Homo sapiens: one gene and its partner. The protein of the gene in region 1 purifies or fractionates together with the protein of each later gene. This does not show direct contact. Each region holds a gene or a part of one and is shown in the gene's direction. Other genes may lie near its edges.

Evidence for each region.
Region 2: the proteins of ERO1B (region 1) and ATP4A purify together in Homo sapiens (affinity purification with mass spectrometry; 3 studies listed by BioGRID and IntAct, with this or other methods). This does not show direct contact.

Annotation. Positions count from the first base shown.
Region 1 is NC_000001.11:236,217,827-236,234,551, reverse strand, and holds part of ERO1B (ERO1-like protein beta precursor), read left to right. Parts: intron 1-1,712; coding exon 1,713-1,724; intron 1,725-4,301; coding exon 4,302-4,328; intron 4,329-7,812; coding exon 7,813-7,905; intron 7,906-8,036; coding exon 8,037-8,283; intron 8,284-9,412; coding exon 9,413-9,482; intron 9,483-12,541; coding exon 12,542-12,628; intron 12,629-12,666; exon of another isoform or gene 12,667-13,586; coding exon 13,587-13,720; intron 13,721-15,975; coding exon 15,976-16,036; 3' UTR 16,037-16,725.
Region 2 is NC_000019.10:35,558,980-35,567,774, reverse strand, and holds the start of ATP4A (potassium-transporting ATPase alpha chain 1), read left to right. Parts: upstream 1-4,116; 5' UTR 4,117-4,145; coding exon 4,146-4,157; intron 4,158-4,247; coding exon 4,248-4,391; intron 4,392-4,506; coding exon 4,507-4,566; intron 4,567-5,136; coding exon 5,137-5,340; intron 5,341-6,842; coding exon 6,843-6,956; intron 6,957-7,159; coding exon 7,160-7,412; intron 7,413-7,701; coding exon 7,702-7,970; intron 7,971-8,583; coding exon 8,584-8,782; intron 8,783-8,795. UniProt on the Homo sapiens protein: The catalytic subunit of the gastric H(+)/K(+) ATPase pump which transports H(+) ions in exchange for K(+) ions across the apical membrane of parietal cells.

The DNA of each region.
Region 1 (16,725 bases):
CTACTTTTGCCTCACAACTTTTCTATTTTCAACTTAAAGGTTTTAATTAAACAAAATTTTATAAAAATTGAAGCAATATAGTAGTTATATAAAGTGAAAAGGGAAAGCTCTTCTATTCCATAGTACAGAGTTTGAAAGGTGTTCTTCCAGACCTTTTCTACAGCCACTTAATACTTTTAAAGCAGAAAATACAATTTTTTCACTTAAGAAAACCATCAAGTCCTAAGAAACACTTCATTTCCATGTTAGTGATATATCAGAGACATAACACTGCTGAAAAGATGAGGAAAAGGAAACTACTACATAGAAAAAGAGGAAGGGAAGAGGAGAAAAGAAGAAAAATGAAATATGAAAGAAGACAAGACTAGGTAAAGAGAATGGTTCCTAGCTGTTATAGGAGTACTCTATGAAGTAATTAATAGCTCTTGCTGTTGCTATTTACCTGCTATCTCCATTGAAATTGGTTGATTAATAGTTCTTTAATCTTCTTAACTCTTTCTTCCACATTTCTGAGTCATAACCCCTAGGCTTATACAACTATTTTCTAACAGGTTTTGAGCAATAGGAACTTTTGTCCAAAAATGAAATCTTATTTCAGAACCTACATAATAAAGCTGATAGGCAGAGCTGCTGTGTTGCCCTAGAGCCCAACCTCTGGCCTCTTCCTCACCTCTAGGCCTCCTGGAAGCAGCACCTTGCCCAAGGGTTTCACTGATTACAGTTTGGGATATACTCTTACTAAGGCCTGTCTCTGCTGAGGAGCAGTAATTTAAAAGAGAAAAATATTCCAGGTTGGAAACAGTAATGTTCAGAGAGGATTGTGTGCATAATGATTAAAGGAGCAACTTTATGTAGTAATTAATTAATTATTGAAAATAGTGGTCTTTATGACTTTTTAGTTGCTTTCTGATGTTATTGTATTTTAAAATGTGCAAATCTTTTTTTTTTTTTCTTGAGACAGAGTCGCACTCTGTCACTCAGGCTGGAGTGCAGTGGTGTGATCTCGGCTCACTGCAACCTCCGCCTCCTGGGTTCAAGCAGTTCTCTGCCTCAGCCTCCTGAGCAGCTGGGATGACAAGGTGCCGGTCACCACGCCTGGCTAATTTTTTGTATTTTTAGTAGAGATGGGGTTTCACTATCTTGGCCAGGCTGATCTTGAACTCCTGACCTGGTGATCCTCCCAAAGTGCTGGGATTACAGGCCTGAGCCACCGTGCCCAGCCTTCTTCTTTTTTTTTTTTTTGAGACGGAATTTTGCTCTTGTTGCCCAGGCTGGAGTGCAATGGCGCGATCTTGGCTCACTGAAACCTCCACCTCCTGGGTTCAAGTGATTCTCCTGCCTCAGCCTCCCAAGTAGCTGGGATTACAGGTACATGCCACCATGCCTGGCTAATTTTTGTATTTTTAGTTGAGACAGGGTTTCACATGTTGGCCAGGCTGGTCTCAAACTCCTGACCTCAGGTGATCCACCCACCTTGGCCTCCCAAAGTCCTGGGATTACCGCCGTGAGCCACCACGCCTGGCCAAAATGTGCAAATCTTATACTCTTTGACCTGTATTCTGATTAAGAGGACTCATTTGCAGGGCGTCTACTCAGTGACCAAGGTTTGTGATATAATTAATAGTTTAACAGTTTTAATCTCAAAAAATAGTATTGGGATCTGAGCTATGTAAGACATTTTCTAAAATCTTTTCTATTATTTTCTCTTTTAGGCGAAGATGATGGTGAGCAAAACTCATGTTTGTTTGTTTCAAGTGTGGAGGAAATTTTTTGTAACAATCAGAATTTGATTTTTCCTTTATGGAATTCAAAAGAAAGTATTCCTGTTTTCTAAGAAAATAGCTACTAATGAATGGTGACCAAAAAAAAAAAGATTATTTTATATATATCAAGTTATCCTATGTTAAAAAAAAAAGACCATTTTTCCTAAATGCTTAGTTTGTAAATCAATTCACATTACAAGTTCCCCATTTTCTGGTTATTATATAATTTACTTGAATATGTCCTGAGGAAGTGGGGAGAAGGAGTTAAGGTAGTTTTACCAGATAATTTGTCTTGTGACCTCTTTATTTTCTTATTGACTGAAATTTCTAACCTCAGGTATCAATATAATACTTAATTTGATGACGAGCAATTTATTAACAATTGATTATTGAATGAATGTTGGTTAAAAGATACCCCCAAAATAGCCAAAATAATTATTTCAACTGAATGTTTACCTCTCTGTGTTCAGGGGCACTGATGGGCATTGTCCAGGGTAGGAAGATGTTTAAAACATGGTGCTTTCCCTCTAGGAGCTGAGGATATATAGGATAGTAGGAAAGATAAGCACTGTACATAAACAATGGTAATGAGGTAAAGAAATACTCCATAGATGGTACAAACAGTAGGTGATATATATAGCTCCTTAGAGGAGAAACAGATCGTATCTCACAGGAGCGATGTGGGAAAGCTTACTGGAGGAGGGGTAGCATTTGAGGTGAATTTTGAATAATGGGACAGATTTAGATCCGTACAATTGGATAGTGCATGTTGGAGGAAACAGCATGCAGCTGGGAGTTGAGACAAGTCAGGCATGTTTGGGGAGACAGTAAAGAGACCCTTTTAGTGGTAGGTAAGACTATATAGTGGTAGTTTAAATTAGATTGATAGAGGCCATATTTTTTAGTACGTTGGGTACTAGACTTTTCCTGTTGGCACTTGAGGTGTTTTGAATCACAAGTGATATAATGATAAATGATCCTTACTATATGTTGAATGAATTAATTTGTTAGACGTTTTCATTTTTGTACAAAGTATGAAGACTCTCAGGAGGCAAAGTAATTCCCCACCGTCTAGTTTATCCCTAGACTCCTTACTCAGCTCATCTGAGTGTTCGGTTTTTCTATAATTTCTATCATTCTCAATTTAAAAAAAAACAACATCAAGGATAGGTAACGCAGGAAGTGCATTAACAATTTTGATTCTTATTGACTGCTCTCTTTTCTTTCTCTTTCCCCAACTCAGAAGAAGGTTACAGGGCCAGGAATGGTTCTTTTTTTTTTTTTTTTTCAAGTGTTTAACATGTTTTGAAATATGTATACATTGTGGAATGGGTATATTGAGCTAATTAGCTCACATACCATTTTTTTGGCGAAAACACTTAAAATCGCAGCAATTTTCAAGAATACAATACGTTGTAATTAACTGTAGTCAGCATGTTCTACAATAAATCTCTTGAACTTACTGCATTTCTTTAACTGAAATTTTGTATCCCTTGACCAGCATCTCCCTGACCCCAGGAATGTTCTTCAGCATTAGTACACAGATTAGTCAAGCCCTTCTGTATTCTATTAACTTTCCTGAAGAATTATATTGAAAATTAAGAGATTTTTTAGCTGTCCCTTAAAACTTATTAGTCTTAGAAAATTGAGGAAATATTTTTAGTTTTATTGGATTAGGAAAAATGGAATAATCAATAGTTGGACGTTTGTGTTAATTATAATTCCTTATTTTCTTGGAATATTTAAAAAGCACTATGGTTGTTATGAAAAGCAAATTTGAGATCGTTAAAATGTTTGCCCTATGTTTTCAGATATTTACACCTTCAATGAATAAGATTTATATACTTTTTTTTTTTAAAAGAGGCAGGATCTTGCTATGTTGCCCAGGTTGGATCCGATCTCCTGGGCTCAAGCAATCCTTCCCCCTCAACCTTCTGAGTTAACTGGGGCTACAGGTCCAAGCCACTGTGGCCAGCTCATATTTTGACTGAAATGTTTTCTTAAAAAATTTAATAGTCAAAATATTTGTAAAAACACTCTCTTAAAGTTACTTAAATTATTTGTAGGTTTTATTTCCTAGAACCATATGGTTATTTTTCTATTTTACCTGAAGCAGTAGACATTTTAGAGAGATTACTTAATCTGTCATAATTTTTTTTTTTTTTTTTTTTTTTTTTGAGACAGGGTCTCACTCTGTCACCCAGGCTGGAGGGCAGTGGTATGATCTCGGCTCACAGCAACCTTAGCCTCCTGGGTCCAAGCAATTCTCCTGCCTCATCCTCCCGAGTAGCTGGATTACAGGCCTGCACCTCCATACCCGGCTAATTTTTTGTATTTTTAGTAGAGATGGGGTTTCGCCATGTTGGCCAGGCTGGTCTTAAACTCCTGGCCTCAAGTGATCAGCCCACCTCGGCCTCCCAAAGTGCTAGGATTATAGGCATGAGCCACCATGCCCTGCAGAAAGATTTTATAAACCTAATTTATTCTACTTTATAAATGACCATATAATGTTTTAATCCACTTTTCTCTCTCTCTCAGGAGAATCATTCTACACATGGCTAGAAGGTAAACAGTCTGTTCTAAATTTATTGGATTTTTTGTTAAAAAATACTGATTTATTTAGCATATTTTTGTAAGGTCTAGGATTTTATTACCTAGTCAACTAATTTTGACAGTTTGAAAAAAAAAATGTGTTTTAGGTTAACATATGGGGATAAAATTATGTGAAAAGTTTGAAGATAGTGGTCAGCTAAAAACCAGGTTTATATAAATACACAGGCCAAATACTGTCATCAGGTTTTCATAACTGGTTCCCTAATCTTATTTCTGTTCTGTATGTAATGTTCATTCAAACTACTTCTCTAGTAACGAGTATGCAAAATATTTTAAAAGTGGAGACATTCCTTTTGGAAGGAAGTACTTTTTATATATAAAATTAATGGAAGATAAATATGAATTCAAAAGATTCGAAACATATTTGCCACGTTAATATAGTCTAACCTTGTCTGATTAAAAGATAAAGCAATATAGATCCTGATATATTAGATGCTTTTGCATTCTTGTACTTCCAGTGTTGAAAATATCAAATGCTATTAATGGAAAGGTGAAATGTTGTAGGATTTTAATAACTCAGGTTAATAACTGGATATATGATGCTTTTAAAAATTTACCTTACCAAATTGCCATTAGTATATGAAATTAAAAATTAAAATATATTAGTAACAGATAAGCAAGTAGAATGACATAGGAAAATTGATATTTCATAGCCATAACCTTATAGGAATACTACAGAGTAAAACTAATTCTATTTTATGCATGTCAATTGGTCATGTTATCTTATGAATATTATTTCTTTTTTTTTTTTTTGAGTCAGAGTCTCGCTGTTGCCCAGGCTGGAGTGCAGTGGCGCCATCTCGGCTCACTGCAACCTCTGCCTCCCAGGGTCAAGTGATCCTCCTGCCTCAGCCTCCCAAATAGCTGGGATTACAGGCACCCGCCACCACACCCAGCTAATTTTTGTATTTTTAGTAGAGATGAGGTTTCGCCGTGTTGGCCAGGCTGGTTTGAACTCCAGGCCTCAAGTGATCTGCCCACCTCAGCCTCCCAAAGTGCTGGGATAACAGGTGTGAGCCACCATACCTGGCCTATTTCTTTGTTTGTAATGAACTATGTGCATATGTTGGCCATTATTAAGGTGAACATTATTGATGTGCAAATTCTGTTAGGAGTTATATGAGAAAATCACTTATGTAGAAGATGTTTAGCTTTGTTTAATAAGCTCTACTCTAAAGATACAAATTGTGAAAAGTAGCATTTAGGCTAGAAAAGGTAGTCAGAGACTCTGAGTGTTAGTAATGAGAATGAAATTTAGAAACAATATTGGATTCTATGTATATTATATCAACCATTCTTCCAGTCTTACTGTTTTGAGTATCTGAATATTGATACATGGTTCCAAAGAGCATTCCCTTATAGGCAGCTGACTCAACCTTTTCTGAGATTCAGTTTCCTCATCTGGAGCGTGGAGAGGAGCAATAGCAGTCCTACTTACACTGTGAGTGTAGATGATTCCTGTAAAGGTTCCTTTGGAAACCACAAATCCACGTCCAAATGCCAAATATTACTGTTACAGTAAATGCAACCCCTTTCTGAAAGTTCAAGTGCTGAAAATGCATTTTAATGAAATTAAATCGAAAAGAGGAAGAAGAGAACCATTTTCTAAATTGTGTAATTGAATTGCTCTATGTTGTTAGAAGTTGGTGGATTCTGCCTTGGTAAGTCAGCTTTTGCAGATGTCACTTCAGAGTGAGATTGAGAAGGCTTTTGCCTGGACCTCGGTAATTAAAGATACCATCCAGCCTGGCACAGACTGTGTGTAGGCCAGGAGAAGCTCTCCAGCAATTTCCTGCTAAGTGTGTTGTGTGTCTGGGTGCACTTACTTGGTGCATATTTTATTATTAATTTGCTTAAAGTTACCTGTTTTTCACAGTTTGTGGAAATACATTTCTATTCCTCTCCCCTCACTTATCCCCTACCTCATTGCAGTGGTAGGGGCTTTGTGGGCTTTGCAAATTATAACTGCCTCCCAGTTTTCCAGGTCCTGGTTTGTAGGCATATGGATTTTCATGAGTTTTGCTTTGCTTACTGTCCCTTCTCTTGTCTTTATCCATTTTATTGGACATAAGCACTGCTTAGAGAGAGAGGTTGGGAAGAAAATAAAGTGAACTTCAAATCTGATATTTTGTTACTTGATAATAGATCTGATGAAAAGTTTTAGTAGAAGAGAAGTTAGTACTTAATGTTGTATTAAATATATTCATATTGTTTGTATCCATTGTTATCGTAAACATTCAAAATTGTCATATACTTTTAGGGAGGAAGCTACAAAATAAAATTCAATTTCTTTTGGTCCCCATCCATGACAATTTGAATATTCTAGCAAGAATTCCCAATTAGGGAACGAGAACTCAAAAGAATTATTTTTTCTAGTTAGAGGCCACGTGCTTCAGAATCATCTGTGATAGGACAGAAAGAGAGAGTGAATTGCTGGAAAATCTTAATAGACACAAAGAAAACCACATACTCTTACATTAAAAAAAAATTTCCCCCATCATATAAATGAGACTATTTTGCTTTCCACTATTAAAGCCCATTTTCCTGCATGGGGAAAGTGTTAAAAACCTGTTGGATGAAGGAGGGAAAAGCTCATGGCCGTGTATCCAGTGACTTCTTAAAATTTTCTGCATTTTTATTTATTTAAGAATTTACCATCTTAATCATTTTTAAGTTTACTGTTTAGTGGCATTAAATACATTCACAATGTGTATTACTCCTATTATGAGAGAAAATCTTTTAAAATGGGGGCAGGGGTTAGGATAGGATGACGGGATATCTTGACCTCTTAAGTTCTCAGCAAAAAAGCCCCTGTGGCTTAAGAAGGCTACATCAAATAACGTTCTGTTATATTCCTGTACTCCACTGATATGATTCCACTGAAGTAGTAAACAGTCAACTTGTTGTTCTTTTTTTAATTAGTTGAAATTCCTGGATTTCTGTTTTCCAAGTTTCAGCTCCTTACAAGTAGAACATATGGTTAAAAAATTAGACAATTTCAGGGCAGAAGGTTAATAAAACCCTTATTTCTCTGCTAGCAAATAACACATATAAGGAAGGGGGAAAAATCCAGCAGTGACTTTATAATTACATTTACTTCAGTAAGTTCTTAGCCTAAACCACAAGAAAACCTGTGCTGTTGCTGTCTAACATGGGAACTTGCCAACTTTATCCATAGTGTTTTGACCCCTAGTTGCTCAAACTTTTCTGCTTTTTTCAGCATTAAGTTCTCATCATATTCAGTTAACTCCATTCTGAAGCCAAAATCTTACTTTGCCTTCTAGTGAGAGAATCTTGATCTAATCAGTTTTATATTATTCCTTGATTTATTTTAATGTTCTTCAATCAAAAATAAGCCTACATACTGAACCTCCTTGAGTCAATATTTCTGATATCTAAATAGGTGTAATTTCTTTTTCAATATTTTTCTGAATAGGTTTGTGTCTGGAGAAAAGAGTCTTCTATAAGCTTATATCGGGACTTCATGCTAGCATCAATTTACATCTATGCGCAAATTATCTTTTGGAAGGTAATCATATTTTTAAGTCGAGATTTTGCCTTCTATTAGTGTAAAAATTATTGGAGAGAATACATATTCTTTAGAGCAGAAAAAAAATCCTGTTTACTAAAACAATGTAATGTATTTCTCTTTCTCTTTAGAAACCTGGGGTAAGCCCAGTTGGGGACCTAATATTAAAGAATTCAAACACCGCTTTGACCCTGTGGAAACCAAGGGAGAAGGTCCAAGAAGGCTCAAGAATCTTTACTTTTTATACTTGATTGAGCTTCGAGCTTTGTCAAAGGTGGCTCCATATTTTGAGCGCTCAATTGTCGATCTTTACACTGGAAATGCAGAAGAAGATGCTGACACAAAAACTCTTCTACTGAATATCTTTCAAGATACAAAGTAAGAATTGACTATCCGTGATTTGAAATTCTCCTCTCTGTATTCAAATGAGGTAGCACTTAAAGTACACAAAAACTGACTCCTAAAAGTTAACCGAGGGGAGATGTAGAACAGAAAAGGAAAGTGATCAATAGAACAACAGAATTTAAAAATATTTCTGAAAATGTTGATGAAAAAGCATTAATAAGGCTTTCTTTTGCAGAAATTTTCACACTTGAGAATAGTGCTTTAAAATATCACTAAATTTTATGTAGTATCAAAATTTAGTGCTACTTTAATGGTCTTTCTACCAATTTTGTATTCTTCTAGTCACTTTATTTACTTACTTATTTTTGAGACAGAGGCTTGCTCTGTTGCCCAGGCTGGAGTGCAATGGCACAATCTTGGCTCACTGCAGCCTCTGCCTCCCAGGTTCAAGCAATTCTTGTGCCTCAGCCTTCTAAGTAACTGAGATTACAGGTGTGTGCCATCACACCCAGCTAATTTTTGTATTTTTAGTAGAGATAGGGTTTCACCATGTTGGACAGGCTGGTCTCAAGCTCCTGGCCTCAAGTGATGCACCCTCCTCTGCCTCCCAAAGTGCTGGGATTAGAGGCATGGGCCATCGCGCCTGGCCTCTAGTCACTATATTTAAATTTAGATGATAATATACATGTGTTTGCATTGGGATGGATATGTAAGGAAACATTAGCCTTATCTTCTAGAATATAACCTTTTAAACAAAACGCTTGGTCAAGAAAACTTGAGTTAACTGGTTTTTAAAATAGCCTGGAAGAGAAAGATTAAAAAGTGTTTAAAGTAAATTATGTATTAAATTTTTAAAGAATATTAAGGGAATATTGCCTATTTTTTACATAGATTGTTTTCAGTTAATTTTTTAGATTACCTGTGTCATTTATTTAAAACATTACAGTCTTACTAAATTTAACAGCCATCTGTGTCTTGCTTTAGTCTTTTATGAAATAGTTTATGTGTGAACTGTTTGTCACTTTTCTACATTACCAAAACTTACATCGGAGTAAATAATGAATTTTAAATATTCATAAGGATAGAAAATTTTATCAGGTTTCTGATACAGAGTACGTGGATTTTTCATGTGTAACTTAATCCAATACTATCATTTTATCAGGTCCTTTCCCATGCACTTTGATGAGAAATCCATGTTTGCAGGTGACAAAAAAGGGGCCAAGTCACTAAAGGTAAAAAGTTCTCGATTGGGACACGGGGTTGGGAGCAGTTTGCTGGTTATGCTTTAATGCTGTGCATCCAAACTGTTTTCTTTCCCAGTTTTCCAGCTTCTTGTCAGAGTTGGTCTGATTGGATTTTAATACAAATGGTACAAAAAGCCTTTCCATATTTCTCAGTTCCATTGACCAACTGCTTAGTGAATCATTGGTCATTAGTATGTCCTATAACACCTTTATAAATGTCTTTTTAAAAGATACTAGTTGAGGGAAAGTTTTCTTAGTTTAAAAGCAGTGTATATTGTCGTTTTGATGCAGCTTTCAGAATACCATGAGCTTTTAGCCACTTTGAGGACAATAAATATTTTTCTAAAGTTTATTTTATGGAATGTTACGGTTTTTGAAACATATATTATGTTTTTGTCCCTTTGGACTAACTTAAAAGGTTAAAACTACCTGTTAACATGTGACATCAGAAGGAGAATATGTTTTGGGAACATTACCAAACTTCATGTTAGGTGTTCTTTATTTTCATTTGCTTAAAGTACATTAAGAAACAAATTGTACCCTTAAAATGTTCATAAAAGTATTTGAAATTGGCATTTTTTTTTTTTTTACTTTTAAATTTATTTTTTGAGATGGGGTCTCGCTATGTTGCCCAGGCTGGTCTCAAACTCCTGGCCCTGAGCTGTCTTCCCACCTCAGCCTCCCAAGTACCTAGGATTACAGGCACAAGCCACCATACCTGGCCACAAATAATCTTTGAGTACAACTTCATAGTCTTTTATATGTACTTCTGAAATCCGGGTAGTTTCAAAAACTGAAACATTTTCTTATGTTTAGTGCAAGGTAATTTTTTAGCAAAACCTGACCTAAACTGGTGTAAGAATATAGCAGATATTCGTAGTTTTGTGGGGTTGTTTTCAAATTCTGCTTGGTATGAATTTTTTATATTTTGCTACAGAAACATTAACGGATTTGACTGCAGGGTGTTTCCTCACACTCTGGTGAGATGTTTCATAATATACAGTACATGTACTGTATTTCTAAAATTTAAAAACTTCTGAATTCTAAAACACATTTGACCCCAAGATGTTTTAGATGTGGATGTACTATAGGAACCAATAAATCAATACTGAGTGATTCTCCTTTGGCGAGACTTTCTTGGTATTTCTGAAATAAGTAATTTAGTCACAACTATATTTTAGTGTTGGAAGGTTGTTTTATTTTACAGTTGTTTTAGAGGTATATTGCCATTTTGGTATTTTGTATGTTAATTCATTTTTATAATGCTTCCTGTTTTCTAAGTATCAACACATATGTTCTACTTTTAATCTTCAGAATGATCTTGTGTAATAGGGCAACTATAATTATGTATGTTTTTGTAGATGAGGAAAGTGAGACTAAGCAAAGCCTAAGTGTCTCACAGCAAGCTTTTAACTACACAATGCTGGGATTTTGTTTGCTGTTTGTCAAGAATGTATGAAGGAGAACCTATGTCCCTTTTCCATCTGCTGCAAAGAACTTACATTACATGAGAATATGACCAGCACAGGAGTTTTTGTGTTCTATTTATATTGTCTTTCTTTGCCAAGGTATTGATTCCTTTCAACCCTCTGGCAGCTGGTCAGGGCTTGTGGTAGCCAGAGTTTTCAGGCTACTTGCCTCCCGCTTCATGCAATAAAATATTTCCCTCAATGCAATAAAATGATTTTTATTTTCTGCAGTTGCCATGTGAAACAAATGAGGAAATTTTCTCTTAACCAATCTTATCCGCAGATAAAGTGAGACCAACCTTAAAGGCATATTGCACACAAATGCTTATAGGCAGAAGAATTTCCCCAGTGTAGGAAACTTCTCTTTTTTTTTTTTTTTTTTTTTTGAGACAGAGTTTCACTCTAGTTGCCCAGGCTGGAGTGCAGTGGTGCGATCTTGGCTCACTGCAACCTCCACCTCCCGGGTTCAAGCTATTCTTCTTCCTCAGCCTCCCAAGTAGCTGGGATTACAGGCATGCACCACCACACCTGGCAGATTTTGTATTTTTAGTAGACATGAGGTTTCACTATGTTGTTTAGGCTGGTCTCAAACTTATGACCTCAAGTGATCACACCTTGGTCTCCCAAAGTGCTGGGATTACAGGCGTGAGCCACCCTGCCTGACCAGTGTGGGAAACTATTACAGCAAAATAGAGGGATCCAGTAAGCATCTCCATAACAACTGCATTAGCAAATGTAGAGGACTGTGGGACCATATGTGTCACACAGGCCTGTTATCATTCATATTGATTGAGCAACCATGACAAACATAGTGTGGTACTAAGGAGTGATACAAAAATTGATCATTGTTCTAGGACTAGCTTTCTGATATAGGCTTACACAAAGCAAAGGATCAAAAATAAGTGAAACATAAACTAGACATATTTATTGTTGGTTGTATGTAGATAACAAATGGAAGCAGCAATTAAGTTCCTTAAAAGTAAAGACCATGTATTATTTACTTTTGTATCTCCCATAGTGCATATTTTGGTGCTTTGCATAAAGTAGCTCCTCAGTGGAAAGTGAATTAATATGCAGAATGAATTTTATTAATTTCCATTAATGTCAGTATTTTATGTACCATGTTATAGTATACAAGTATCAAGTATTTTTCTTTACTGTTGAAAAACACAACTCGGGTTGGGTATGGTGGCTTACACCGTAATCCCAGCACTTTGGGAGGTCGAGGTGGGCAGATCATTTGAGGCCAGGAGTTCAAGACCAGCCTGGACAACATGGCGAAACCCCGTCTCTACTAAAAATACAAAAATTAGCTGGGCATGGCGGCATGCGCCTATAATCTAAGCTACTTGGGAGGCTGAGGAGACAGGAGAATCCCTTGAACCTGGGAGGTGGAGGTTGCACTAAGCCGAGATGGCACCACTGCACTCCAGCCTGGGCGACAAAGCAAAACTCCTTCTCAAACAAACAAAAAACACAACTGATTTATTAATAAGCATCAAAACTTACTTATCGTTTAGCCAAATGCGGTTCAATTTTAAAAGTCTAATTAGACTGAAAATATTTTCTGCTTGCTAGGAGGAATTCCGATTACATTTCAAGAATATCTCCCGTATAATGGACTGTGTTGGATGTGACAAATGCAGATTATGGGGAAAATTACAGGTATATGTGTTGTCTTCTCTTTTGAAGCCATTACTAACCTTTATTTTTTCCACTGAGTCCAAGCTTTTTATTAAAATGTCCTCATTGTTCATTGAATTAGAATTTAGGAATAGGCAGATCCAAGGTGTTTTTTCTGTTGATGAAAAAATTAAAGTATATGTGTTACATGTATGTGAAAGGATGTTTCTCATATTATTCTTTAGTGATTTTAGTTTTATTGTGTCTATGTTTCTATTGATACAATACCAGATTCATTTGTGAAGTTGGTGGTCATTACGAACCGAGTATATCCGTATTTTACATATGTATATAGAAAGGTAAAATGTAATTACATAAAAAGATTGAAATATGAAGTCTTGGTCATTGAATTTGTATAAATGAGCAAAAGAAGGTCACTTAGTCAAAACAGGAAAGCTCCGCAAGACAGGTCCATTACTCTGTGTAAGCCAGTGTCAAAAGGATTGTTGAATATTTTATCTCTTTCTAACAAAGATGGTAACTTATAGAAAATTAAGAGACAAAATTATTACAGTGGAGGCTATACTGAAATAAAATGTCTTTTTCTATAGTGCTAATAATTGAGAAATTATTAAGTGTGGGTATCAATAATCTCTGAGTTTTGAATTGCTAAAAGCTGTAAAAAGTCCTTTATGGTTACAAATTGAACATTGTAATCCTAATATGGTATTTTCAAGGTTAAAAAAGTCATTTTAATAATTTGGAATAGTATGATATGTATTCAATAAGTGTTAAGACTATTCAGGTTTCCTTAACTGCTCAGATGTGTTTATTATATGCATAACCTGTGAGAAAGTAGAAACTGTAGTAATATTTTTGTGAAAAGCTCAGTTCATATGAATTTCCTAACTGGCATAACAGTGGCTATATATTCCTTTAAGCCTTTTTACTAGTTATTATTATTTAAAGTTAATTATGAGTTTATTGCTATTTTCTTTAGACTCAGGGTTTAGGAACTGCCCTGAAGATATTATTCTCTGAAAAAGAAATCCAAAAGCTTCCAGAGAATAGTCCATCTAAAGGCTTCCAACTCACCCGACAGGAAATAGTTGCTCTTTTAAATGCTTTTGGAAGGTAAGAACCATTATATGTTGAAGATTTTTGATTTCCCATTGGGTTTCAACAAACTGCAAAGATAATCTTCTTTGCTAAAAGTAGGGTTTGTTTTGTTGACAAAAAAAAATTTTATATTGTATCTGTACTAACTTAGAGAGGCCTTAATGCTGACAAGTCAGTTTCTCTACAGGTCATAGGAAAAACTAAGTTTCCAATTGCCAGTGTTTTTCAGTTTGCTGCCTTAATTTTGTAAGGGAGATATTCTTCTAATATTCTTTTTGCTTGGCTATAACTTGTTCAACTACAATAGCAGGAGTAAGGAATGTGTGATTGAGAAGGTGATAAAAGAAAATTAAAACCTTCATCTGCTCCTTATTTTTCTTAAATTTTCATTACTATTTTTTTCTTTTCTCACCTTTTTCCTGCACTATGCTCTTTATTTCTGAAGCTCAGAGGTCATTTTTCTTTCACTCATTTCTACATGATTTACTTCTGTATAGAGACATATAATTTGCTTGCTTGTTTATATCACCAGTGGTTTAAAAAATAATTTGAATTTGCCAGCAGAGATACATGTAATGCCAACTGAGGAATACAGAACAGAAGGAAAAGAATCACAGAAAATAATACTATGCTTCCTTGGGGAAAAAGAGAAAAAAGTCAACTTGAGGAAGAATTAAAAAAAAAAAAATAGGGGACTAAGTAATACAAAGATTATTTCTTGGTTTTCTTAACATGTGTTTTAAGTTAAAAAGAAGCAGTTAAATTAAAAACAGATTTATTATATGTCCCCTGCTTTTTTTTTTTTTTTTTTTTTTTTTAAAAGAGATGAGGGTCTCGCTCTGTCATCCAGGCTGGAATGCAGTGGCACAATCATGGCTCACTGCAGCATCCAAATCCTGGGGTCAGGCGTTCCTTCCACTTGAGCTTCCCAAGTAGCTGGGACTACGGACACATGCTATTTTGCCTGGCTAATTAAAAAATTTTTTTTGTAGAGATGGGGGTCTCACTTTGTTGTCCAGTCTGGTCTCAAACACCTGGCTTCAAGTGATTCTCCTGTCTTGGCCTCCCAAAGTGCTGGGATTACAGGCATGAGCCACTGTACCTGGCCATTTCCCATCTTAATAACAAGGATTTCAGCTGTTGCTTCCCTGTATTTAAAGATGACTATGTAGGTTGAGATTTCAGACACAGGATAGATATAGACTATCCATTAACTGGTATTTCATAAAAAATTCAGTCCATCCACTTATGAGGCCTGTAGAAAGATAACACAGGAGATACTGAATGAAATTTAAATAAATTGAAATGAAAAATATTGTAAATAACTTAAGCATCTCTTAAGTCCAAATTAAATTGAGAAAGATGAAAACAATTGAGAATTTCAAAACAATTGAAAATTTCCTTCGATCTCATAAAAAATATTCACAAATGCAGCCTTTCTTGTTTTAGTTCTATATCTAGAGCTTATTACCTTTTATTGTTCCCTAGAGTAATGGACTCAGAATCAGGGGTCCTAAAGTTCTGGAATCCTGGCCTGCCCTTTAGTAGTGGTATGAACTCAGGCAAATCACTGCTTTCCTAGTTTGTTTCCTGATAATGAGATCATATATGTGATGGGCTTAGAACATTGCCTGTCCTCCTAAGTGATTAAGGAATAATTTTTCTTCTATCAAATAGTTAAAGATTTTTCTTCTATCACCCCTGAATTGTACATAGGGATACTTGAGCTTTTAGAATTACTTTTTTATATTTCCCATCCCAGAGTTTTACTTTTTGGCCTGGGCTGAGAAGCACTTCATTTAGTCAGTCAGTAATCATTTACTGAATACTATAAGCATCAATGGGTATGGGGCACAGGAGAGAGACTCAGCAGGAGATGAAATAGAGTCTTTACCCTTAGGGAGCTAACAACATAAGACAAATTAGTGTGTTTGGGGAACATTGAGTAAAGAGCAATCATTTGAAGAGGAATGTGCAAAATAAATTTATTAGACCAATTGTAAATGATTTGAGATTCTTTATTAAGAATTATTCATATCACTGTTCCCATTATTAATCTAATGTCTGTAGATAGTATGAAGTAACAGGCTTCCTTTGCCCCTTCTAAACCAGTCTTAATGAGAACACTAATTTAAACATGGAAGCTTCAGTGTTTGAGGTTTTTTATTTTAGGTTTTGCTTTCAAATTATAGCTTATGTAACAATATCAATAATTTGAAACAGTATGCAACATGTTAGCCTTACTAATAAGCTTTTTCTTTCTTCCATAGGCTTTCTACAAGTATAAGAGACTTACAGAATTTTAAAGTCTTATTACAACACAGTAGGTAATAAAGGCTTTTATGTGTCTAACTAGAGACATAAAGTGACTGTGGAAAGCCTTTTAATTATGGACATTCATCAGAAAGACACTAATCTGACTTCAAGAATTCTGAACTATTAAATAGAAAATTTAAATGCTCACTTGAATATTTATGATTCTTAATAGATTATTATCAACTAGAGATATTTATAAATGAAGTATATACTTTTAAAACATGTAAGTTATACTAATTTTGTGTTTAATTTCATATGTTTTCATGTAATGAAAATTCTATTTTTTTTAGAATTGGTTTTGTTTTTATTCTATTATCCTTTATTTCCAGTTGTCAAACTTTAAATGGCTATGTCTGCATTCTAATAACACTGTTCAGTCTGTTATGGAAAAGGAGAACTAGGGAACAAATGTTGCTCAGGGCTGGTGTCAGTGAGAAAAATTTATCAATGCTTTTTAATGTGTTTTTACCCTTGCCTCACTGTGTGTGTGTCACTTTCTATAATATAAAGAAATACTATAATATTTCTAGAATCTGGAACTGTCACCATGATGAATGGCCCTTTCAATGCATAGTTACAGAAATTCCTGAAGATTCCCCAGGACTTCAATTTCATTGGTTTTTATTTGCAGTTTTTAGTTGCTGTAATTGTTGCTGTTTCCAGTCTAAAGGACCTCCTTTGGTAAAGGTGAACAAGACCTCTCC
Region 2 (8,795 bases), on another chromosome or scaffold:
TACCCATGAACCTAGCTGAGCAGGGGATGGTCAGAATGGACAAGGGTGGCTGGGCGTGGTGGCTCACACCTGTTATCCCAGCATTTTGGGAGGCTGAAGTGGGCAGATTACTTGAGGTAAGAAGTTGGAGACCAGCCTGGCCAACATGGCAAAACCCCATCTCTACTAAAAATACAAAAATTAGCTGGGCATGGTGGTACGTGCCTGTAGTCCCAGCTACTTGGGAGGCTGAGGCAGGAGAATCGCTTGAACCTAGGAGGTGGAGGTTGCAGTAAGCCAAGATCGTGCCACTGCACTTCAGCCTAGGTGACAGAGCCAGACTCCGTCTCAAAAAAAAAAAAAAAAAAAAAGGACAAGGCCTTGGGACTGGCACAGGCATCCACTTTAAGGGGTTGGGTGTGGGAGGTCTGGAGTCTTAGGGGAAGTGCTGGGGGCTCAGGCAGTGGCTGTATTTCTTTCAATTACTTTAACTACCAGGGCAGCTGGGTGCCAGCCCTGGCTGTGGCACTGTCTTGAGTAAAAATTAAAGAGGGCATAGAATGGTTTCCTGATCACTCCCTAAGGCTCTTGAGACCCCTCCCCACCATGTCCACCCTGCTCTAGACAAGTTACAGACTCCAAAATGGGGCATGGCCTGACACGATGATGCTCTGGGGCAGGGGATGGGGGGGACACACATCCCTTCTGTGTTCCTGCCAGCACACAACCCGAACTTAATCACGAAGAACCAGCAGCAAAGCCACACTGAGCGAAGTCTACAAAATCACTGAATCATACTCTTCCAAAACGCCCAGGTCATGAAAGACAAGGAAAGATGGAGGAATTGTTACGCAATGGAGGAAGCCAAAATGTGAGGTGTGGTCCCGGACTGGATCCTGGACTAGGAAAAGGACATTAGTGGGAAAACTGGGGAAATTCAAATAAATCCTCCAAATCATGGGTGTCCAATCTTTTGGCTTCCCTGGGCCACATTGGAAGAAGAATTGTCCTGGGTCACACATAAAATACATTAACACTATCAATAGCTGATGAGCTAAAAAAAAAAAAAATCGCAAACAAATCTCATAATGTTTTAAGAAAGTCTACGAATTTGTATTGGGCAGCATTCAAAGCAGTCCTGGGCCACATATGGCCTGCAGGCCATGGGTTGGACAAGCTTGCTCTAGATTATTTACTAGTGTTTTATTAATGTTAATTTCCTGAATTTGATTATTAGACTGTGCTTATGTAAGAAAATGTCCTTATTCATAGAAGACACATGCCTAAGTATGGATAAAGGGGATCCTGTCTCCAACTTGCTTCCAAATGATTCAGCCAAAAATTTAAAAAATTCTGGCCAGGCATGGTGGCTCACACCTGTAATCCCAGCACTTTGGGAGGCCAAGGCGGGTGGATCACTTGAGACCAGGAGTTCTAGACCATCCTGGCCAACATGGTGAAACCCCGTCTCTACTAAAAATACAGAAATTAGCTGGGCATGGTGGCGGGTGCCTGTAATCCCAGCTGCTTGGGAGGCTGAGGCACAAGAATTGCTTGAATCCAGGAGACAGAGGTTGCAGTGAGCCGAGATCATGACACTGCACTACAGCCTGGGCGACAGAGAAAGACTCTGTCTCAAAAAGAAAAAAAAAAAAAATCTATCAATCATCTATCATTTATGTATCCATCTATCTGTCTAACATCTCTTATCTATCTATTTTTCTATTTTTTTTTTTTTTTTTTTTTGAGACAGAGTCTCACTCTGTCACCCAGGCTGGAGTGCAGTGGCATGATCTCGGCTCACTGCAACTTTCACCTCCCAGGTTCAAGTGATTCTCCTGCCTCGGCCTCCCTGGTAGCTGGGATTACAGGCACACACCACCACATCCAGCTAATTTTTGTATTTTTAGTAGAGACAGGGTTTCACCATGTTGACCAGGCTGGTCTCGAACTCCTGACCTCATGATCCGTCCACCTCAGCCTTCCAGAGTGCTGGGATTACAGATGTGAGTCACAGTGTCCGGCCCAGTCCTCCTTCTAATGAACACCAAACAAATAAAAAGAAAACACAGTGTCAGGTTGGAGTAGGAGGTGTAAATACAGTGGGGTAAAGGAACAGAACACAGTGTGCAGTATTACAGAATGGACTCTCTGAAGAGGTGACATTTGAGCTGAGACCTGAAAGAGGTGAGAAAGCCAGTGCAGACATCTAAGGAAGGGGGCCCAGGCAGAAGGAACTGTAAGTACCAAGGTCCTGAAGCAGGAACGACCTTGGTCTGTGCAAAGTGCAGCAGAGAGGTCAGTGCCCCTGGAAACCTAGCAGCAACAGAGGCAGGACAGGTGACCAGGGCCAGATGTTGCAGGAAGGAGTGCAGAGTTTATTCTGAGTGGGAAGGGAAGGCTTTGGAGGGTTGTAAGCAGGGGGTGACACAAGCTGTTTGACATACATGGCTCAGAGCTGATGGGAGCCCAGTGAGCGAGTAGATTCACTACAAGGACAGCATGTGGCCCCACGCCACCTCTTCTTTGGAGGTTTCTTCTAGCAGGCTGGGGATGACCAGCCGTGTGGGTGCGGGGAGGAGCTCTGGCTGCCCAACAGCTTTGAGTTTCCCAGGTGACCTGCCCCAGTAGAGAAGGACATTGCCAGGGCAGTTATCTTATCAGGCGCACGCTCACCTGCTCCTGGAGACACGCTCACCCCATAACATACCAAGGTCCCCACCATTCCACTGGCCCAGCCCCTCGCTGCTGCTGCCCATGGAGGTCCCTACCTGAGGGATGAGGAGGGAGTCCCCAGGCCTCCTGGCATCTGTCACCCAACACCAAGATCAAGCCAAGACCCTTGGACACATCCTTTCCCCATGTTGCACCTTGGTTTCCCCATCTAGGGTAGGGACGGGGAATGGTTGAGAGCTGTAAAGTCTGTAGCTGGATATGTGAGTCCCTGTGAGCCTCAGTTTCCCCCTCTGCACAACAGGAATGATAGTTCTGCCTGCACAGGGTTTTTTGCAAAGACCCGTGAGGTCACACGTGCAGAGCCTGGCATGTGTGTGGTGCTGCTGCAGTGAAGTTTGGGTTTTTCCATTGGTGGTGCCATAGAAGAGCTAGGCTCTGGGGTCAAGCCCTGGGGTCAAGCCCGGGCTGGAACCCTGTCCCTAATTCTTAGACGTTGAAATCTTCTGCAAAGTCCCTGATGGGGGCTAAGAAGAGAATATTGCTTTACAGGGCTGCTGTTAGATGCTAAGGAAACCATTTGAGTGACACACAGAGCACACCCAGCCCATAGTGAATAGTCAGAGTTCAGTAAACATTCAGCCACCATAGAGAGTGTTGTAAGCATGGCAGGGCATGGTGGCTCACGCCTGTAATCCCAGCACTTTGGGAGGCCAAGGCGGGTGGATCACCTGAGGTCAGGAGTTCGAGACCAGCCTGGCCAACCTGGTGAAACCCCGTCTCTACTAAAAGTACAAAAATTAGCTGGGTGTGGTGGCATGTGCCTGTAGTCCCAGCTACTCAAGAGGCTGAGGCAGGAGAATCACTTGAACCCGGGAGGCGGAGGTTGCAGCGAGCTGAGATTGCACCACTGCACTCCAACCTGGGTGTCAGAGTGACACTCCATCTCAAAAAAAAAAAGAAAAAAAAAAAGAGTGTGGGAGCACCCTCCTCTTCCAGTTGATCAGGCACGTGCTATTTAGACTGAAAGAGGACACTCTGCAGCCAGCTGATCTGGTTCTCACTCCATTATGTCCTAGCCTGTGATGGAGCCATAGGAGAATGACTCAACCCCTCCATGCCTCAGTTTCCCCATCTGTAAAGGGTCTTGTCCCCTCAAAGGGTTATTGGAAGGTTAAATAAGTTAGCACATGGAAGCCGTCAGCACAATGCCCAGCGCATAATGAGCACCTTATGTTTGCTCTTCTTGTTGCTGCAGCGGTTCCCAGGGGCTCCCTGATCTCAGGGCAGGTTGACATGGGGGGATCTGGGCAGGGGAGGGGGGGGCCAGCCCAGGAGGGAATGCCTGAGGTGCCCAGGCCTAGAGGTCACCCCAAGGAGCCTGTAATCAGCTGTGGTCGGGCGGTTCTGCTCCACCCCACCGCCCTCCCTGGGTATATCAGGACTGGTCCGGGCCCAGGCTCTGTTGGGTGGGAGCACAGGCACCGGGCACCATGGGGAAGGCCGTGAGTGGGGCCCAGGGGTCCGGGGTGCAGTGGGGACAGGGGTTGCAGTGGAATCTGAGTTCTCCCTCCCTCCATCCTGTCCATTCCCAGGAGAACTATGAGCTCTACTCGGTGGAGCTGGGTCCTGGCCCTGGCGGGGACATGGCTGCCAAGATGAGCAAGAAGAAGAAGGCGGGTGGCGGGGGTGGCAAGAGGAAGGAGAAGCTGGAGAACATGAAGAAGGAGATGGAGATTGTGAGCTCTGACTGGGGAGGGGCGGGAGCTGGAGGGTAGGCTGGGAACCAGGCAGTGGGCGGGGAGGGGGCCAGGAGAGCCCAGAGCAAGCACCCTGCCCCACCCCACCACACAGAACGACCACCAGCTGTCAGTGGCGGAGCTGGAACAGAAATACCAGACCAGTGCCACCAAGGTGAGCTGGAGACTGGGAGCGTACAGAAAGGGGAGGAGGAGAGAGGGAGGGAGAGGGAGATGGAAGGAGGGAGATGGAGAGAGGGAGAGAGAGGGAGAGATGAAGAGAGGAAGATATGGAGAAATAGAGAGAGGGAGGGAGGCAGAAAAGGAAAGAGGGAGGGAGGGAGAGAGGAAAGGATGGAGGGAGGGGAGGAGAGAGGGAGGGAGATGGAGAGAGGGAGAGAGAGGGAGAGGGAGAGAAGGGAGAAAGCATTAGAGAGAAAGGGTGACACACAGAGACGGAGAGAGGAGTAGCTGAAAAGAGACAGCAAGACAGAGAAGGCAGAGACAAATAAGGAGAGAGCAGCAGGAGAGAGACACATAGAAAGGGGAGCGAGGAGAGAGAGACAAAGGGAGAGATGAAGGAGGGAGGGAGAGATGGGGTGGGGGCAGGAACCAAGAGACAAAGAGATGAGAAGGAGCAGGACAGACCAAGCTGGAGAAGGGAAACTGAAGCAGGGGGCTTTCCACGGGGTGTGCATGTGGAGGAAAGCCCCCAGGACCGCCTCGCCCTGCCCCTCTGTCCCAGGGCCTCTCTGCGAGCCTGGCTGCTGAGCTGCTGCTGCGGGATGGGCCCAACGCACTGCGGCCACCACGGGGCACCCCAGAGTACGTCAAGTTCGCGAGGCAGCTGGCCGGGGGCCTGCAGTGCCTCATGTGGGTTGCCGCCGCCATCTGCCTCATCGCCTTTGCCATCCAGGCTAGTGAGGGGGACCTCACCACCGACGACAATGTGAGCCATGTTGTGGGGACAGGCTCAGGACATGGGGACCTGGGGATGGAAGACACTGAGCCTGGGACTTGGGACAAGAGGGGCAGAGAAGGATGGGGATAGACGAACACGAAAGGCAGTCTCAAGACAGGGGTCATGGAGGGTGAAGGACATTGGGATATGGATGGGGCAGACCCAAGGACACAGGACACAGGGACACTGGGGTGAATCTTGGGTATGGGGACATAGGTGGGGGCATAAAGAGTATGGCAATGTGATACGTAAGAGATGGGATTTGGAGGCCGGGCGTGTAATCCCATGCCTGTAATCCCAGCACTTTGGGAGGCCGAGGCGGGCAGATCACCTGAGGTCAGGAGTTCGAGACCAGCCTGGCCAACATGGCAAAACCCCATCTCTACTAAAATTACAAAAATTAGCCAGACATGGTGGCGGGCACCTGTAATCCCAGTTACTTGGGAGGCTGAGGCAGGAGAATCATTTGAACCCAGGAGGTGGATGTTGCAGTGAGCCAAGACCATGCCACTGCACTCCAGCCTGGGCGACAGAGCGAGACTGCATCTTAAAAAAAAAAAAAAAAAAAAAAAAAAGAGATGGGACTTGGAAGCAGAGGACATGCAGTGCAGACACAGGACAGACTGAGGCACGGGGAATAGGAGACCCTGGGACTCAGACATAGGACACCAGGGCAGGGACCCAAGCCTCAGGACACAGCACATAGAGAGACACAAAACATGAGACATAGAAGCACAGAGACAGAGAGGAAATGGAGGTGCAGGGCAAGGGACATTGGACATATGGCAGAGATGAGGGCAAGGGACATGGGGACTCAGGGACATGTGACATGGGACAGAGGCTCGAAAAGTCATGGCCATGGGACACAGGATGGGAACTCGGAGATACACAGACATGGGAGACACGGGACACAGTGACTGGGGAGCTAGAACATGGGGGCCGTGGCCACAGAGGACACAGACCATGACGTACAAGGTCTGCAGCACACGCAGGGACGGGGATGTGAGGATGCAGGGACAAGGGGGCCCAGGGGACACACAGAGGGTGGCAGCAGATTATGGAAAACCCAGGATGTGAAACTGGAGACACGGGGAATACAGGCCATGGGGACAGGAGGAGACATGGGACAGTGGACATGGGGAATGCAAGGCTTGGGGACACAGGAGAAGGGAACACGTCAGACCAAGGCACACAGTGATTTGGGGCACAAGTCACAGATATGGGGACATGGAAGATTGAGGATTCAGGGCCAGAGGATATGAAATATACACAGAAACACAAGACACTGAGAAGACAGAGCAGGCGAGTGTGGGACATGAGGGACATGGGAGGGGGCTAAAGGCTACAGGGAATGGTGCATGGAGCTTCCTAGTAGGTGGGGAAAAGCATGGGGAAAACCAAGAAAACCAGGGCACCAGGGAGCAGGTCGGTGGCCTCAGGCAGGCAGCTTCCGGCCCCTCTGAATAACCCCACCCCTTCCCTGTCCCCAGCTGTACCTGGCAATCGCTCTCATTGCTGTGGTTGTCGTCACCGGCTGCTTTGGCTACTACCAGGAATTCAAGAGCACCAACATCATCGCCAGCTTTAAGAACCTTGTGCCACAGGTGGGTTCCCCAGCACCCAGCCACTCCAGATCCCAGAGACTCCAAACTGCTCCTGTAGCCTCCTTCCATCAGGCCCCTGTCCCTCATCTGTGGCCTCCATCTCTCCCCATGGGTCCCAGCTCTCCTCATCCTTTACCTCCCCACATGCAGCAGCTCCCACCCCCACCCCCGTCCACCTCAACTTTGGTGCCCCTGCCCCGCAGCAAGCCACTGTCATCCGCGATGGAGACAAATTCCAGATCAACGCTGACCAACTGGTGGTGGGCGACCTGGTGGAGATGAAAGGTGGGGACAGAGTGCCCGCCGACATCCGCATCCTGGCGGCCCAGGGCTGCAAGGTGGACAACTCCTCGCTGACAGGGGAGTCTGAGCCACAGACCCGCTCACCCGAGTGCACGCACGAGAGCCCTCTGGAGACCCGCAACATCGCCTTCTTCTCCACCATGTGCCTTGAGGGTCTGTGAAGCCCCCGCCTGCCTGCCCAGTAACTGCTGCCTCCACTGGCCTCTCTCCTGCTATCTTCTAGGACAGGGGGCTTCAGCCTCCCTGTCTCTCTCCTGCATGACTGCCACCTCCCCGTGACTGCCACCTCCCCAGGGCACACTGCTTCTCTGTCTCCCACTGTCACTACCCTCTCCCAGGTCACATCCTCCACTGGCAGTGACTGGCTGTCCTTCAGCTCACACGGCAGTGCACACCCCACTGCCGCCCCCTATCCCTGAGTCGCGCCTTGGCCCCCCTGCAGGCACCGTGCAGGGCCTGGTGGTGAACACGGGCGACCGCACCATCATTGGGCGCATCGCATCGCTGGCGTCGGGGGTGGAAAACGAGAAGACACCCATCGCTATCGAGATCGAGCATTTTGTGGACATCATCGCGGGCCTGGCCATTCTCTTCGGTGCCACATTTTTTATTGTGGCCATGTGCATTGGCTACACCTTCCTGCGGGCCATGGTCTTCTTCATGGCCATCGTGGTGGCCTATGTGCCTGAGGGGCTGCTGGCCACTGTCACAGTGAGTGGGGGCAGGCGGGGATGCAGGGAGCTGAGGGGCCTGCTCAACCATCTGTTCTTTCCTCCACATTTCCCCCATCACCTCCCTGCCTGTCTATCTGTCCACTTAGCTCCCATCCATTCTCCTGCCTTCCCATCATCCACTCATTCAGCAAGTCCTTCCCGAGGCAACCCTGGGGCAAGTCCTGTGCCACACATTGAGGGCGCAGAGATGACGAGGCCGGGTCCTTAACTGGAAGAGGCTGATGTCCTGTGCAGGCAGCCAGCATGTCACCAGACCTTCCACAGTCAGCACCCAGCTCCAGACCAGTCCCCAGGGAGGTGCGGGGAAGGTTCCTCTTCTCATTTTGATTGTGTGAAGAGAATTTTCAGAACCTCGGCTGGGACAGCTCAGAGAGGGGCCTCGCTACTGTATCTGGGCAGACTGGGGAAGGAGTCCCAAACAAAGCACTGGCTGAACAAAAGCTGGGGCCAAGAAAACACCTGGTGTTTGCAGAAGCACGTTGCACACGCAGCCCCGCGGCTGGGGTAAAGCCTTCCCCGTTCTTTGACGCGGGGAAGAGGACTGGAAGCCAGGGTGGGTCCCCAGCCTGCGGTGCTCACCCCTTCCCCAGGTCTGCCTGTCCCTGACAGCCAAGCGCCTGGCCAGTAAGAACTGCGTGGTCAAGAACCTGGAGGCGGTGGAGACATTGGGCTCCACTTCGGTGATCTGCTCGGACAAGACAGGGACTCTCACTCAGAACCGCATGACTGTGTCCCATCTGTGGTTTGACAACCACATCCACACAGCTGACACCACGGAAGACCAGTCAGGTGTGGGGGAGGG